Homo sapiens: one gene and its partners. The protein of the gene in region 1 purifies or fractionates together with the protein of each later gene. This does not show direct contact. Each region holds a gene or a part of one and is shown on either strand. Other genes may lie near its edges.

Region 1 (3,500 bases):
GTATGTGTGTGTGTACGCACACATTTTGTTGTTGTTGTTGTTGTTTTTTGAGACAGAGCCTTGCTGTGTTGCCCAGGCTGGAGTGCAGTGGCACAATCTCGGCTCACTGCAAGCTCCGCCTCCTGGGTTCACGCCAGTCTCCTGCCTCAGCCTCCTGAGTAGCTGGGACTACAGACGCCCACCACCAAGCCTGGCTAATTTTTTTATATTTTTAGTAGGGATGGGGTTTCACCGTGTTAGCCAGGATGGTCTCAATTTCCTGACCTCGTGATCTGTCCGCCTCGGCTTCCCGAAGTGCTGGGATTACAGGTGTGAGCCACCACACCCAGCTACATGTTTTCAACTCTTTTTTTGTTTGGTTTGAGACAGAGTGTCGCTCTGTCACCCAGGCTGGAGTGCAGTAGTGCGATCTCGGCTCACTGCAACCTCCGTCTCCCAGGTTCAAGTGATTCTCCCACCTCAGCCTCCCGAGTAGCTGGGATTACAGGCGCGTGCCACCACGCCCAGCTAATTTTTGTGTTTTTAGTAGAGACAAGGTTTTGCCATGTTGGCCAGGCTGGTCTCAAACTCCTGATCTCAAGTGATCTGCCCACCGTGGCCTCCCAAAGTGCTGGGATTACAAGCATGAGCTGCTGTGCCCAATCAACTCTTTAAAAATGTAAAAACCATTCTTAGCTCAAGCGCTGTCCTAAAACAGGTTGCAAGCTGGATTTGGCCTGTAGGCCAGAGTTTGCTGACCCCTGCTCTAAGTGATCACCTGGGAATGTCCCCTGCTCCAAGTGATCACCCGGGGAATGTGGGAACCGACAGGCTTTTCTGGAGTTGGGAGTTTCTTTAAGATCTTATCTATTCCATCTATTAGACTCATTCATTGTGTTTATTCCTTTCTGTTGATGCATTGGTAAGAAACAGTATGGGAGAATAGATTGAAATATACAATGCTGTTTTCTCAGCATGATGTGCTATTTGCTCTTTATAAATGACAGGTGATTTAAAACAATTAATTGGTTATTTGCTGATTTAATTGGGATCTAATTCTACGTGGCTGGAAAAAATTTCCCCTGAATTTCTAAGTTTTTTGGATTTTTATGTCATCATTAATCTTGGATTCTTTCCAAAAGGAGCTCTAGGCTATTGTTTGTTTGTAGGAATTACCCCTCCTGAAGCCCGAGAGTTGTAATGGCTTACATGACTGAACGTTGGTCCCCTGTTAGTGTGGTTCTCTAAGAAACCTTAGGACTGTTGCCTTGGAAATAGTGAATTTTCCCCTCTCAATGACCAAGACACAGAATGTCTGTGTAGGGCATTTTCTGCAAAGAACAACAACAAAAACAATTGTTTTAAAAAGCTTTTCAGAAATATAAAAGTAGGGTGAATAGTATAATGAATTTTCATGAACCCATCACCTGGTTCTATAGTGATCAAAACATGAAAAGTCTTGTTTCATCCCAACTTCTACCCACTTATCTTACACTGGATACTTCTACCTGTGTAAGATTACTTTGAAACAAATTCTATGTAACATCCCTTTTCATCCAAAAATACTTCAGTGTATATATTTAAAATATAAAGACTTATAACCACAATAATATTCTCACACTTAAAAAGATTAAAAATAATCAAATATCTGCACATTTCTCATAATTTTTTAAACAGTTGAATTGTTAAAATCAATATCCATATATAGTCTACATAGTGCCTTTGTTTGCTAAATCTCCGAATCTTCTTTCAATCTATAGGCTCCTCTCTTTGCATTTTATTTGTTGAATAAACTGGATTGTTTGTACTGTAGATTTTCCACAATCTGGATTTTGCTGATTGCGTTCCCACACAGTTGTCTAACATGTTCCTCTGTTGCTTGTATTTCCTATAAATGAGTAGTAAGATCTGGAGGCTTGATTCAATTCTGGTTAGATTTTTTTTTTTTTTTGGAGGTGGGAAGAATACTTTATAGGTGATACTGTATAGTTCCTAATGAATCATGTGTGAAGGCAGAAAATGTCTAGTTGTTTATTTTTATGATATAAAGATAGGTCTTAAAAGTACCTTTAAAATTTTTTGTTTTTTTTAATTGACAAATAATAGTTGTACATATTCTTGGGGTACATAGTGATGTTTCAATATGTATAATGTGTAATGATCTGATCAGGGTAATTAGCATATCCATAATCTCAAACATTTATCATTTCTTTGTGTTTGGAATCTTTTTTTTTTTAATTTAAAAGTAAACTTTAGCACACCAACATGGCACATGTATACATATGTAACAAACCTGCACATTGTGCACATGTACCCTAAAACTTAAAGTATAATAATAAGAAAAATAAATGTGAACATAAACTAAAAAGAAAAAAAAAAGTAAACTTTAATGTCGAAAATGCAAACTTGGGAATCTTAAAAGTATCTTAAAAATGCTTTCTAGTTCTCAGTGAGTTCAAATGTTGTCAGACTGATCTGTTCATTGTAAAGTTTGTGTGAAAGATTTTTACTAGGGTTTATATTAAATCTGCTATTTTTATTGATGAAGCAGTTCAGACATTAGAACTTAAGTTATTGAGGTAGTGGTCATAGAAAGGTGAGACATTGCTCATCTGACTGACTTTCTCTCTAATAGCTGGAAGAAGAACTGAGACAGCAGAAAGAAGCAGCTTGTTTCAAGGCTCGTCCAAACACCGTCATCTCTCAGGAGCCCTTTGTTCCCAAGAAAGAGAAGAAATCAGTTGCTGGTAGTATTATATGTACTCTGATGGGACTCGGGCAGAATTGTCAGACTTCCCAGTGGGATGCTGGAATTCAGTGTGTCAGTACAATGCTGTGTCAACTAGAAGCATTTGACTTTAGCAGATGGTAGCTTTTCTTCCCCTAGACCCAGTTTTTTGCCTTTATTGAACCCAGCAGCTATGTTGAGTTGCAGGATGTGTTAGGGCCAGATTCATTTAACATGAACCTTGGCAGAAGCAGCTGGCATTTCAACAACAATGATAGGTTTTCCCCATCCACAGAGAAACAAGTAAATGAGGGAGGGAGAGCCAGTATGGCTTTCTGGAATTCACCCTGAAGCAAACTTTAGATATAAAACATTTGATTCCTTAAACACTGGGCAGTGTGCTAGAATACTGGGATTCCACCGGGTGTGGTGGCTCATGCCTGTAGTCCCAGCACTTTGGGAGGCCCGGACAGGAGGATCACTTGAGCCCAGGGATTTGAGACCAGCATGGGCAACATAGCAAGACCCCATCTCTTTTTCAAAAAAATCTTTCCAAAAAGGGAAAAAAAGAATATTGGGATCTTTCTTCTATGTCTGCCTCAAAATCAATCACTATATAGTTTTGTGCAAGCTACTTTATGTCTTTGCCTTTTTCCCAATTACACCAGACGATTTCCAGGGGCCCTTTGAACTCTTAAAATTCTAAAACTTTTTGTATTTAGTTGGCTCTACCTTTCTCCCAATGGGGCTTGTTTAGAGCACAGTCTTCCTGTTAGTGTGCATGTCTGTGCCA
Region 2 (2,965 bases), on another chromosome or scaffold:
TGAAGAACAAAGAAAGATTCATGAGGAAAGGATGAAACTAGAACAAGAACGACAACGTCAACAAAAAGAAGAACAAAAAATTATCCTGGGCAAGGGGAAGTCCAGGCCAAAACTGTCCTTCTCATTAAAAACCCAGGATTAAATTGCAAACTCTGAACTTTTTACAAAGAAAAATGGAAAAACTTTGTATGGTAGCTTCATGTTGAAGTGGTTTTTTGTTTTTGTTTTTGTTTTTTTAATTTGTAAAATCTGGAAAGTTAGCTTGTTCTAATAGGGGCTATGCTCTGCAATTCCCTTTTTTTTTTTTTTTTTCCTTCCACTAAGTCAAATCCTTATCAGATCATTGTTGTATTCTAAGGAGTGACGTATTTTTCACCTGTTTGGATTCTATATTAGTGGTCTGAGGAAGAGCAGATCACATTGTAAAACTATGGATGGTCTGATAAGGCTTTTACTGACCCCACTGACTTCAGAGTTATACTCTGTTTGCTACATCATAATGCTGGTTTTGCTGACTTTTTGTTTTTTTATATATTTATAAAAAAAGAAAAAGTTGGTGATTGCATTGGGAAATTCCCAGGGTATTACTGGACCTATGTGGTGTATTGTTAAACCAGTGTCCTTGTGATACTGTTGCTCTTGATGTTCCTGATACAGGTAAGGAAACAGTTGGTCAACTCTGATACAAAGTATATATACAGTTCAGTATTGTCTCTGTTCATTTTGTTTTTATTTCATTGACAAAATCAAACCAGCATTCCCCATTGTGTAAATAAATGATTTTGCTGAATAAAGTAAAGTCTTAAATTCATATGTTGAAGCAATTTTTTTTAATGTTATGTTAAGTCTTAAAGAGGGTGGTTCACTTTTTGATGGTCAACCATTTAGAAGTCTTAGAACTATATTTCCTCTTGTTTATACTTTTAACATAGGGTTTATATGTACATTAAATATACTTGTGAATTAGTATTTAATGGCTATTTTTACAAATATCAACTTTATGCTGATAGAGCAAATGGCATCAGTGTTACCTTTAAGAAAGACTAACAACATCCAGAAGATTTAAATTCTCAAACCTGTGCCTCTGTTTTAGGATATAAGTATTATCACAAAGTATACTTAATAAAGGCTAGAAAAATGCTTTTAAATTATGGAATCTGAGATCGTTTTCAGAGTGGGCCATCAGAAAGAACTTAGCTTTATACTGTCAAAAAAAGGCTAAGATGGTCGAGTCATTTTCATTGTGTAGTGTACTTGCACGTTTATTTTTAGGACAAACACATTTGAACTTTATGAATTTTTTTTTTTTTTTTGCATGTGAAATCTTATGAATGGCTTTCATTTTATACACTAGAATCTGCCTCATTTACTCTTAACATATGTTTAAGTATACTGGTATTAAAACATTCAAGAAAAGGATATTGATCTAAAATGCTACCTGAGATGCATAAACATGTCATCAAGTAGAGAAAATATTTTTATTTTTGCCCAATATTTTTTAGACAGTTTGATTATTCTTAAAAATTGAAAACATAAGCTAAAGAGATGACTAAATGGTAGATTATTTTGTGTGTGCATGCTAGGAAAAATGCTGTTGCTTTAGTTTTGAGCTCTTCAATGAGTCTAATTGTGGTAAGGAACAATATAAAATCAGTTTAAAGATCTTTAAAGGTAGAATTTTAAATAGGCATGAAATATAGTGAGAACTTTTAGTAAACATACTACTTACTCTAAAATCAAACATTTTATTTTCCTAAAGAATATAGGTTGCCAAAAAATATTTTATCTCTAAATATAGGTTAGCTGTAATTATTTCATGAATTTTTTTTTTTTTCAATGTAACTTTTTTTGGTGAAGATTCATGGTTCCTAAGTTCTGTATTCAAGTTTTTGGAAATGTTTATTTAAAAACTGTTCTATACAAGTGTTCAAAACATTGTATCTAAAGAGAGTAGCCTGGACTTAAAATATTTGAAATCAGCTTATGCGTGCCTTTTAATTTTTTTTTTAAGTTTCTTACTGCCACATATGGTGTGAAGTGACAGTAAGTTGCTTAATGACATCCTGCAGTATCTGCTTGCTTTTGGAGACTCCAGTGAGATGTTGAAATTGTTCCTGTGCTTGGTAACTACTTTCCTCTGCCAGGCTATGGGAAAGAGGATGTAATTGTGAATAATATACACCATCCAGTCTTTAATGTGCTGCAACAATGTAGTAATTTGTTTTTTTCATTTGTTCCCACTGCCTTTGTGTACATAGAAAACTTAAAAATTTCCCCCAGTCTATTAGAAGTTAAGATGTTCCCTAATTTATTAAATATGCCTTTATTCACAATTTGTTTTTTTAGGTTATTCTTAATGCATTATAGAATTAAGTATGACTTTGTTTATTTTTATTACAGTATGTAGTTATTGACATATTGTGGTTTGCAGAATTATCAATTGTATAAACTAAACCTTTAAATTAGCTTGGTGTGAGGACTCTTTAATGCTTTAAATTGGGGAAGGGGTTTGTAGTATGAGATTTTACCTACTTCAGTTTCCCTTATGAAGATGCAGCAAATCAGACTATTTCTACCCTAAGTAATCTCCGTATTCATTTACTGTGCTAGTATGTGTCCATAGCTTTTTTTTTTTTTTTTTTGTATCACCACCTGTCCTGGATTTAGCAGTATCTTAAGAATTTTCAGTGGTTTGTATTTTTTCAATTTTCTAAGTATAGTAAGCGTAGAATCCTGACTTGTTGAACTCTATGTATCATTTCTAATGCCTCATTTTATGAGGAGCCTGTCACTTCACTGACATTTCTCCAAAGCTATTTCTATCCATTAGAGCGTCTCTTTTCAGTTGTCTAAATTTTCTGCATCTTTACACGCAAAACCATTCATCTGTTTTGTATTAATGGCCATGAGAAATACTGAAGACAGGCTATCCTAATTTTTGAGGCTCTCCTCCCCCTCCAGGAGA
Region 3 (3,500 bases), on another chromosome or scaffold:
TTCCAGGGAATGCATTGGTTTGTGTTCCTTGCTTAGTCGTTCACTCAATAAATCTCTGTGCCTTGTTTGTGCCAGGCACTGGGGGTGCTGAGGAGGCAGGGTTAGGTCCTTGGGCGGATGCTGATGACACATGGGGAGTGTGAGTGTGTGTGTGTATGTGTGTGTGCGCACACACACGTGGGGATCAGGCCGTGAAGAATAAGTGTGGGAGCCCAGGACTCTAGCTGGGCTCTATTCAGGAGGCAGACATTCAAGAGGCTTTGTGAGGAGGTGACACTGGCGGCCCCAGGATGTGCGGCAGTGGGGACTGAAGAGGAGGAGGAGGAGGGAGATGCAGGGTGGCAGCTGCAGCGCAAGCCATGGCCCCACACACAGTTGAGGAAGGGCCCTTGGGCCAGGAGGAAGTGAGCCCGTGGCAGTGTTGAAAGCAGCTGGCGCAAGGCTCTGGGCCCTCCCAGCAAGGCTCATCTCAGGTGGTGGTGCCCACGCTCAAAGGGCAGAATGCGGGTTCTGCCTCCACGGGTCCCCCTGTGCTGCTGGTTCACACGCTGACCACCCCTGGAATATCAGGGTTCAGAAGGACAGAGGGGTTCCACCGCGTCGTTTTCCACACCTCCTCCATGAAGCCACATTCTTATTGGACCCTGGGGTTCCAGGGTCCAGATACCATTGCTAATGGCTAGGAGAAGGGAAAACTGCGAATGCACAACCCCCACCAGGGGGTCCTGTTTCTGTCCGCCTTGCTGTTCCTGGGCAGAGGGGCAGGACTAGTTTATCTTGATGACCCTGTGTTAGGACCAACTAAGGGATCTGTGCTGGGGTCCCCAAGATGACCCAGAGCAACTTGCTGGGGGACTCACGGCCAAGATGTTAACTGCGGTGAAGGGACACAGGCAAACTCAGCCCTGGGAATGAGTACATGAGGGCGCCTGGAGGAAGCAGGCGCATCCTCTTCCTGTGGACTCGCAGGGGCCACGCTGCCCTCCTCCAGTTGTGACAGCACGAGTGGCATGCTGTCTGCGAGGAGACTTGCTCAGCGCCCAGGGTTTTCACTAGGCTGCTCACCTAGGCAGCCTCTGCCCAGCATGGACCAAAATTCCAGATTTGGGGGGCAAAGCAGGCATTCAGCACAAACTGCATTGGTTGCAGAAACAGTTTAGATGCAGTGAGCCCCTCTTACTGGACAGTGAATGCTGGGAGCCCTCCCAAAATGCAGCTTCCCAGACACCAGCCGAGGCCTAGCCTTGCAAGCAGGCCTTCCAAGGAGAGCAGCCAGGCCTCCTGTGTCACTTTTCTGCACGCTATCCTAACTGATGAGACATTCTAGTCCAGTTGAGATTTTGACATTTCTCATTCACTCACTGGGCGTCTGCCCTGTATCAGGTCTCGTGGGGGCCCTGGGGATATAGCAGGGAAGAAACAGTCCTGCCCTCTTGGAGTTGATGGGGAGGTTGAGCCAGGATGAACATGGGAATGACTGAATAATCCGACAAGGCATAGGCAGTGTTGGCAGAGAACTCCTGGTGACCCAGTAGTGAATACAGGAGACTGGACAGACACTATGAATTGACATCTAATGAGGGACCTCAACAGTTGAGTGACGTTGAGCCACATGGGAATAACAGGAAAAATAAAAACCTGGGGGAAGCTGGTCCTGGCCCTGTAGGGGAGAGCTTGGCTGCTCATTGCACTGAAACGAGGCTGGGTGGTTGGGGTGGAGGAGTCGGGATCGTGGGAGGAAATGAAGCTGCCAGGAAGCTACCCAGTCGTCCCCAGATACCTAGACACCCAGACACCCACCCCTGCTCTTAGGCCCTAAGGGTCATGGTCAGGAGTTGAGATCAGAGGCCCTTAAAATCCAAACATGACAGGGGAATATGATTCAGCCATAAAAAACAGAGTGACATACTGATAGATGTAGCAGTGTTGTAGATAGATGCACTTTGCTAAGTGAAAGCGCCCATCGCACACAGCGCATGAGTCTGTTCGCAGGAGCTGTCCAGCAGGGGCAGGTCCGCAGAGACGGAAAGCAGAGTGGCTGCCGGGGGCTGGGGGTAGAGGGTGGGGAGCGATTGCTTAGTGTGTACAGGGTCTCTTTTGGGGGTGATGAAAATGTGCTGGAACTATATAGAGGTGGCGGTTACATAACATTGTTAATGTGCCAAATGCCACTGCATCGTTCACTTTGTTTTGTTTTTGTTTTTTGAGATGGAGTCTGGCTCTGTCGCTCAGGCTGGAGTGCAGTAGTGTGATCTCGGCTCACTGGAACCTCCGCCTCCCAGGTTCAAGCGATTCTTCTGCCTCAGCCTCCTGAGTAGCTGGGATTACAGGTGCCCACCACCATGCCCGGCTATTTTTTTTGTATTTTTAGTAGAGATGGGGTTTCACCATGTTGGCCAGGCTGGCCTCAAACTCCTGACCTCAGGTGATCTGCCCACCTCAGCCTGCCAAAGTGCTGGGATTACAAGCATGAGCCACCACGTCTGGCATTATTTATTTATTTTTGAGACAGAGTCTCCTCTGTTGTCCATGCTGGGGTGCAGTGGTGCGATCTTGGCTCACTGCAGCTTCTGCCTCCCATGTTCAAGTGATTCTCCTGCTTCAGCCTCCCGAGTAGCTGAGACTACAGGCGTGCACTACCATGCCTGGCTAATTTTTGTATTTTTAGTAGAGATGGGGTTTTGCCATGTTGGCCAGACTGGTCTTGAACTCCTGGCCTCAAGTGATCCACCCACCTCGGCCTCCCAAAGTGCTGGGATTACAGATGTGAGTCCCTGCGCCCAGCTGAATCGTTCACTTTAAATGGTTAAACAGTATGCTTTGTTATGTGTATTTTGCCATAGAGCAGGAATGGCCCCCCCTCTACCAGCTGGTCCCCGAGAGTGGAGCAGAGAGGTGGCTGATGATGATTTTTGTTACAGAGCCATTGTGGTCTTTATGCCTTTAGATCTCAAGGTCCTTGTATTATGGACTTTTCCTCATAAACTTCAGCTCTCAGACCTGGAGAGGTCCGTTTCCATCCTGACCCCGTCCACACCTTCTTTTGTTCTTTCACACCCGCAGATGTTGGCCGATGATGCAGAAGCAGGTGCCGAGGATGAGAAGGAGGTGGAGGAACTGAAGAAGCAGGGCATCAACCCCCTGCCCAAACCGCCCCCTGGTGTGGGCCTCCTGCCCACCCCTCCTCGGCCCCCTGGCCCGCAGGCTCCAACCTCTCCCAACGGCAGGCCCATGCAGGGTGGCCCCCCGCCCCCGCCCCCTCCCCCTCCCCCACCGCCCGGGCCCCCTCAGATGCCCATGCCGGTGCATGAGCCACTGTCCCCGCAGCAGCTGCAGCAGCAGGACATGTACAACAAGAAGATCCCCTCCTTGTTTGAGATCGTGGTGCGGCCCACGGGACAGCTGGCTGAGAAGCTGGGTGTGAGGTGAGTGCCCTGGACCCCCGTGACAGGCAGTGGGCGCTGTCCTGGGCCCAGCCAGGCTCCTCTTGTTAGGGCAAG
Region 4 (3,500 bases), on another chromosome or scaffold:
CAGCAGGTCTTGGTCAAGACATTGAGGGAAAACTTCTAGGTTTTCACATAGTTGGAATCCTTCAACTTCTGTATATCAAAGTAAATAGTAAAACAATGAAATGGGGATTTAACAAAGCCCATGTCACTATTTCTATGATTGAAGTATCTTGAGTCTTTTTTGCTTGCAGGATGAGCCATTAATAGTAGTCTCTCACCTGTGAATGTATTTTACTTGCAATATTTGTTTTTAAATGTATTGAAGTTTGTATTAGTTCCTTTTAGTGAAACAGACATCTATAATAAGATAGAGGAGTTATATTTTCTTGTTTTGTACATAAAATACAGTTGTAACAGTTCCAATCAAGGGCGCTTAATGACCATTTATGTCACCGTTTATAATGTGGATTACAAAGCCACAGAGTGGCTCCCCTTCCTTCACTCTTAAGTGGGCCAGAGCAAGAGGGTAATCCTTGGATGCTGTTGACAGCATTCTCCTTGTTTTACAGTGGCTTAAAGAGAAGGCATCACTTGGAAACGTTCCCTATTATCTGTGTAATAGGGCTTAGCATAGCTCTCCTATGTATTAACACTATTTCACCATGCGCTTGCAGTCCTCAGAGGCATTTGAGCATTGCTTGTATTTTAACTTGTGAGTCAACCTAAAGCAAAGTTAGTATTTATTGGAGATTCATTAGAAGCGTGACAGTATTATGTATAGTTTTACAGCATACTTAAGATTATGTGCAATCTCTTTTCTGAAACCCCTGGAGTTTGGTCGGTTTCAAAGGTCCTACAGTGTGTAGTACATTAAAATTCCCAGCAGTTTCTGAATAGCACTGTATATTATATGCATTAAATATTTTTATAGCATAACATGAATATTCTTACTAAAATCAGATAAATAAAGACTGTAAATAGCCTTATGTCTGTTTGGATCAGATTTTGCCACCAAGTGACTTGTGTTTTCAGAGCCTTTGGATGTAGAGATTGTGAATACAGGATTGTGGGCTGTACAAAACAGTTGTCTTTATTGAAATAATTGACGTGGTAACATCGTTCAAACCAAATCTGCCATAAAAGATAAAGATGAATAGACAAATTATTCTCTTTTATAAAGCTGCTTATTAAATCTTCTCTTTGAGGAGACTTTTGTTTTGAAAAGGCTTTGTTTAACCTGTTTGTTTATTTATAACTTTAGCTTCCTGGAGAAGAGCCCATTGGAAGAGTGGAACCAGTGGGTAATGCACCTTTGTTGGCATTAGTTCACAAGATGAACAACTGCCTCAGCCAGATGGAACAATTTCCAGTCAAAGTACATGATTTCCCTAGTGGAAATGGGACAGGAGGCAGGTAAGGACCATTGCCTGGCTATACCCTTGCCACTGGAATTTGGTACTTAATTTCACTGAAGTAAGATGGCAAGAGGTCTGGTAAAGTCTTGATTGGCCCAGAAAACATTCAGCTGTAATGATGAAAGAAATTAAGCACTCTAAAGAATGAATCAAATGCTTTCTTATCTTTAAAATTATACCATATGCCTTAAACAGGATGCTTTATAAATATATAATCCAGTGATTGTATTTGTAACTTGTAATAGGCTTAGTTTTCCTTAAATTGATACACTTCAGCATACAAAACTTCCTTAAGAACTTTATGTTTAACTTCAGTAGGGATAAAAAATTTTTTGTGGCTGTGAGTAATGTTTACATTTTGAGCGATATGATTTATATGTAATATTAGTGGCTATAACTTTGTATTTTGATGGGGTCAAATGTTTGAAGTTTTACTAGTTTAATAAATATATATATTTTTAATGTAGTTTTAAGGACTCTTGAGGTGCTACAGGAAAGAATTGTTCTATGTTGTGGAATGTTACAAGTTTCATGGAATATTTTGACCGGAGGCCTAGAAAATAGGAAATTTGTTTGGTTTTTATTTATTTATTTATTTATTTATTTATTTTGGGACAGAGTCTTACTTTGTTGCCCAAGCCAAATTACACTAGTGTGAACATGGCTCACTGCAGCCTTGACCTCCTGGCTGAAGAGATCTTTCTGCCTCAGCCTGCCACGTAGCTGGGGCCACAGGCATGTGCCACCATGTTCCATTAATTTTTTTATTTTTTGTAGAGACGGGGTCTCACTTTGTTGCCCAGGCTGGTCTCAAACTCTTGGGCCCAAGTGATCCTCCTGCCTTGGCCTCCCAAAGTGCTGGGATTTCTGAGCCACCACACTCAGCCTAGTTTGGTTTTTAAATCCACATTTTGACGTTTTAAAAACATTTAAAAAACTTTGTTTGAATTAAAAACCATATGCATTTTTGAGTGATAAAGCAATCACATCATGGACTAGGGTTTCTTTTCTGCTTTGAAATTTAATGTAGTGTGTGGTATTCAGTTTTGATCGTTATGATTTCCTGGAGGAGTTCATGAAATAAGGGGGCATTTTGACCTGTGCTTGAGAAAATCATGAAGCTTTTTGTGTCCAAATTTATATAAAATATGTTTGCATATGTATATATTCATAAAATGGAATATTCTCCACATCCCTATTTGTGTGCTTTATGTGCAGGAGGGTCCAATCTTTTGGCTTCCCTGGGCTATATTGGAAGATGAATTGTCTTGGGCCACATAAAATACACCAACACTAATGTTAGTTGATGAGCTTAAAAAAAAAAAACACTCATTGTATTTTAAGAAAGTTTACGAATTTATGTTGGCCTATATACAAAGCCATCTGGGCTGCATGTGGCCTGTGGGCCGCAGGTTGGACAAGCTTGCTTTGTGGAATCATACAGATAATCACAGTTTAAGTTTGTATCTGACTCCTGCCAGAGCTTTTCTGAAATGAGCAATTAAACATCATGACCAGGTTTCAACTGCAGTAGCTATTAAACCGCTTCGTTCAAAACTATTATAGCAAGGTAAATTTTAAAGGTTAGTTTTTAATGTAATATTGTAGCTGAAATCTTTGAAATAAAGAGTTTTTTTTTTCTTTTTAAAAAATATAATTCAATAGGAATGGGCAAAATATTGCAGAAGTGAGTGTGCTTAAATAGTTCAGGAATTTTTGTTCCAGAAAAATAATTAAATATTCATGGGTGAAGTATTTCTGCTCCCATGGATTTATGATGGGACAGAGATCAAATATTGACTTAAGGTTTTCATATGCATGCATACACATCCGTCTTTTATTTCTTACGTATAAAAATTTTTTCTAAATAACTTGAATTATTGGCTTTACCATTCACAGAACTGGTAAGTAAATGCTTAGTACTAGTGTGTCTTATGAAAATGCAGTTTGTATTAACTTGCCTTTATTTGAATTAATGTATATTAAATGTGAAAATAATAGACTAACTTTTTTTTCACAAATTATCTTGAGCTTTTCTCTCAACAGAGGATCACAGGCTTTAAAATTTTTCAACACACATCAATTAAAATGCCAGTTACAAAGGCATCCAGACTGTGCAAATGTGAAGCAGTGGAAGGGTGGACCTGTCAAGATTGACCCTCTGGCT

What was found.
Region 2: the proteins of TPX2 (region 1) and ARGLU1 purify together in Homo sapiens (affinity purification with mass spectrometry; one large-scale study listed by BioGRID and IntAct). This does not show direct contact.
Region 3: the proteins of TPX2 (region 1) and ZC3H4 purify together in Homo sapiens (affinity purification with mass spectrometry; one large-scale study listed by BioGRID and IntAct). This does not show direct contact.
Region 4: the proteins of TPX2 (region 1) and TRIP12 purify together in Homo sapiens (affinity purification with mass spectrometry; one large-scale study listed by BioGRID and IntAct). This does not show direct contact.

What each region holds. Positions count from the first base shown.
Region 1 is NC_000020.11:31,794,790-31,798,289, forward strand, and holds part of TPX2 (targeting protein for Xklp2), read left to right. Parts: intron 1-2,614; coding exon 2,615-2,726; intron 2,727-3,500. UniProt on the Homo sapiens protein: Spindle assembly factor required for normal assembly of mitotic spindles. Required for normal assembly of microtubules during apoptosis. Required for chromatin and/or kinetochore dependent microtubule nucleation.
Region 2 is NC_000013.11:106,541,173-106,544,137, reverse strand, and holds the end of ARGLU1 (arginine and glutamate-rich protein 1), read left to right. Parts: coding exon 1-142; 3' UTR 143-2,465; downstream 2,466-2,965. UniProt on the Homo sapiens protein: Dual function regulator of gene expression; regulator of transcription and modulator of alternative splicing. General coactivator of nuclear receptor-induced gene expression, including genes activated by the glucocorticoid receptor NR3C1.
Region 3 is NC_000019.10:47,072,277-47,075,776, reverse strand, and holds part of ZC3H4 (zinc finger CCCH domain-containing protein 4), read left to right. Parts: intron 1-3,063; coding exon 3,064-3,425; intron 3,426-3,500. UniProt on the Homo sapiens protein: RNA-binding protein that suppresses transcription of long non-coding RNAs (lncRNAs). LncRNAs are defined as transcripts more than 200 nucleotides that are not translated into protein.
Region 4 is NC_000002.12:229,793,010-229,796,509, reverse strand, and holds part of TRIP12 (E3 ubiquitin-protein ligase TRIP12), read left to right. Parts: intron 1-1,179; coding exon 1,180-1,331; intron 1,332-3,364; coding exon 3,365-3,500. UniProt on the Homo sapiens protein: E3 ubiquitin-protein ligase involved in ubiquitin fusion degradation (UFD) pathway and regulation of DNA repair.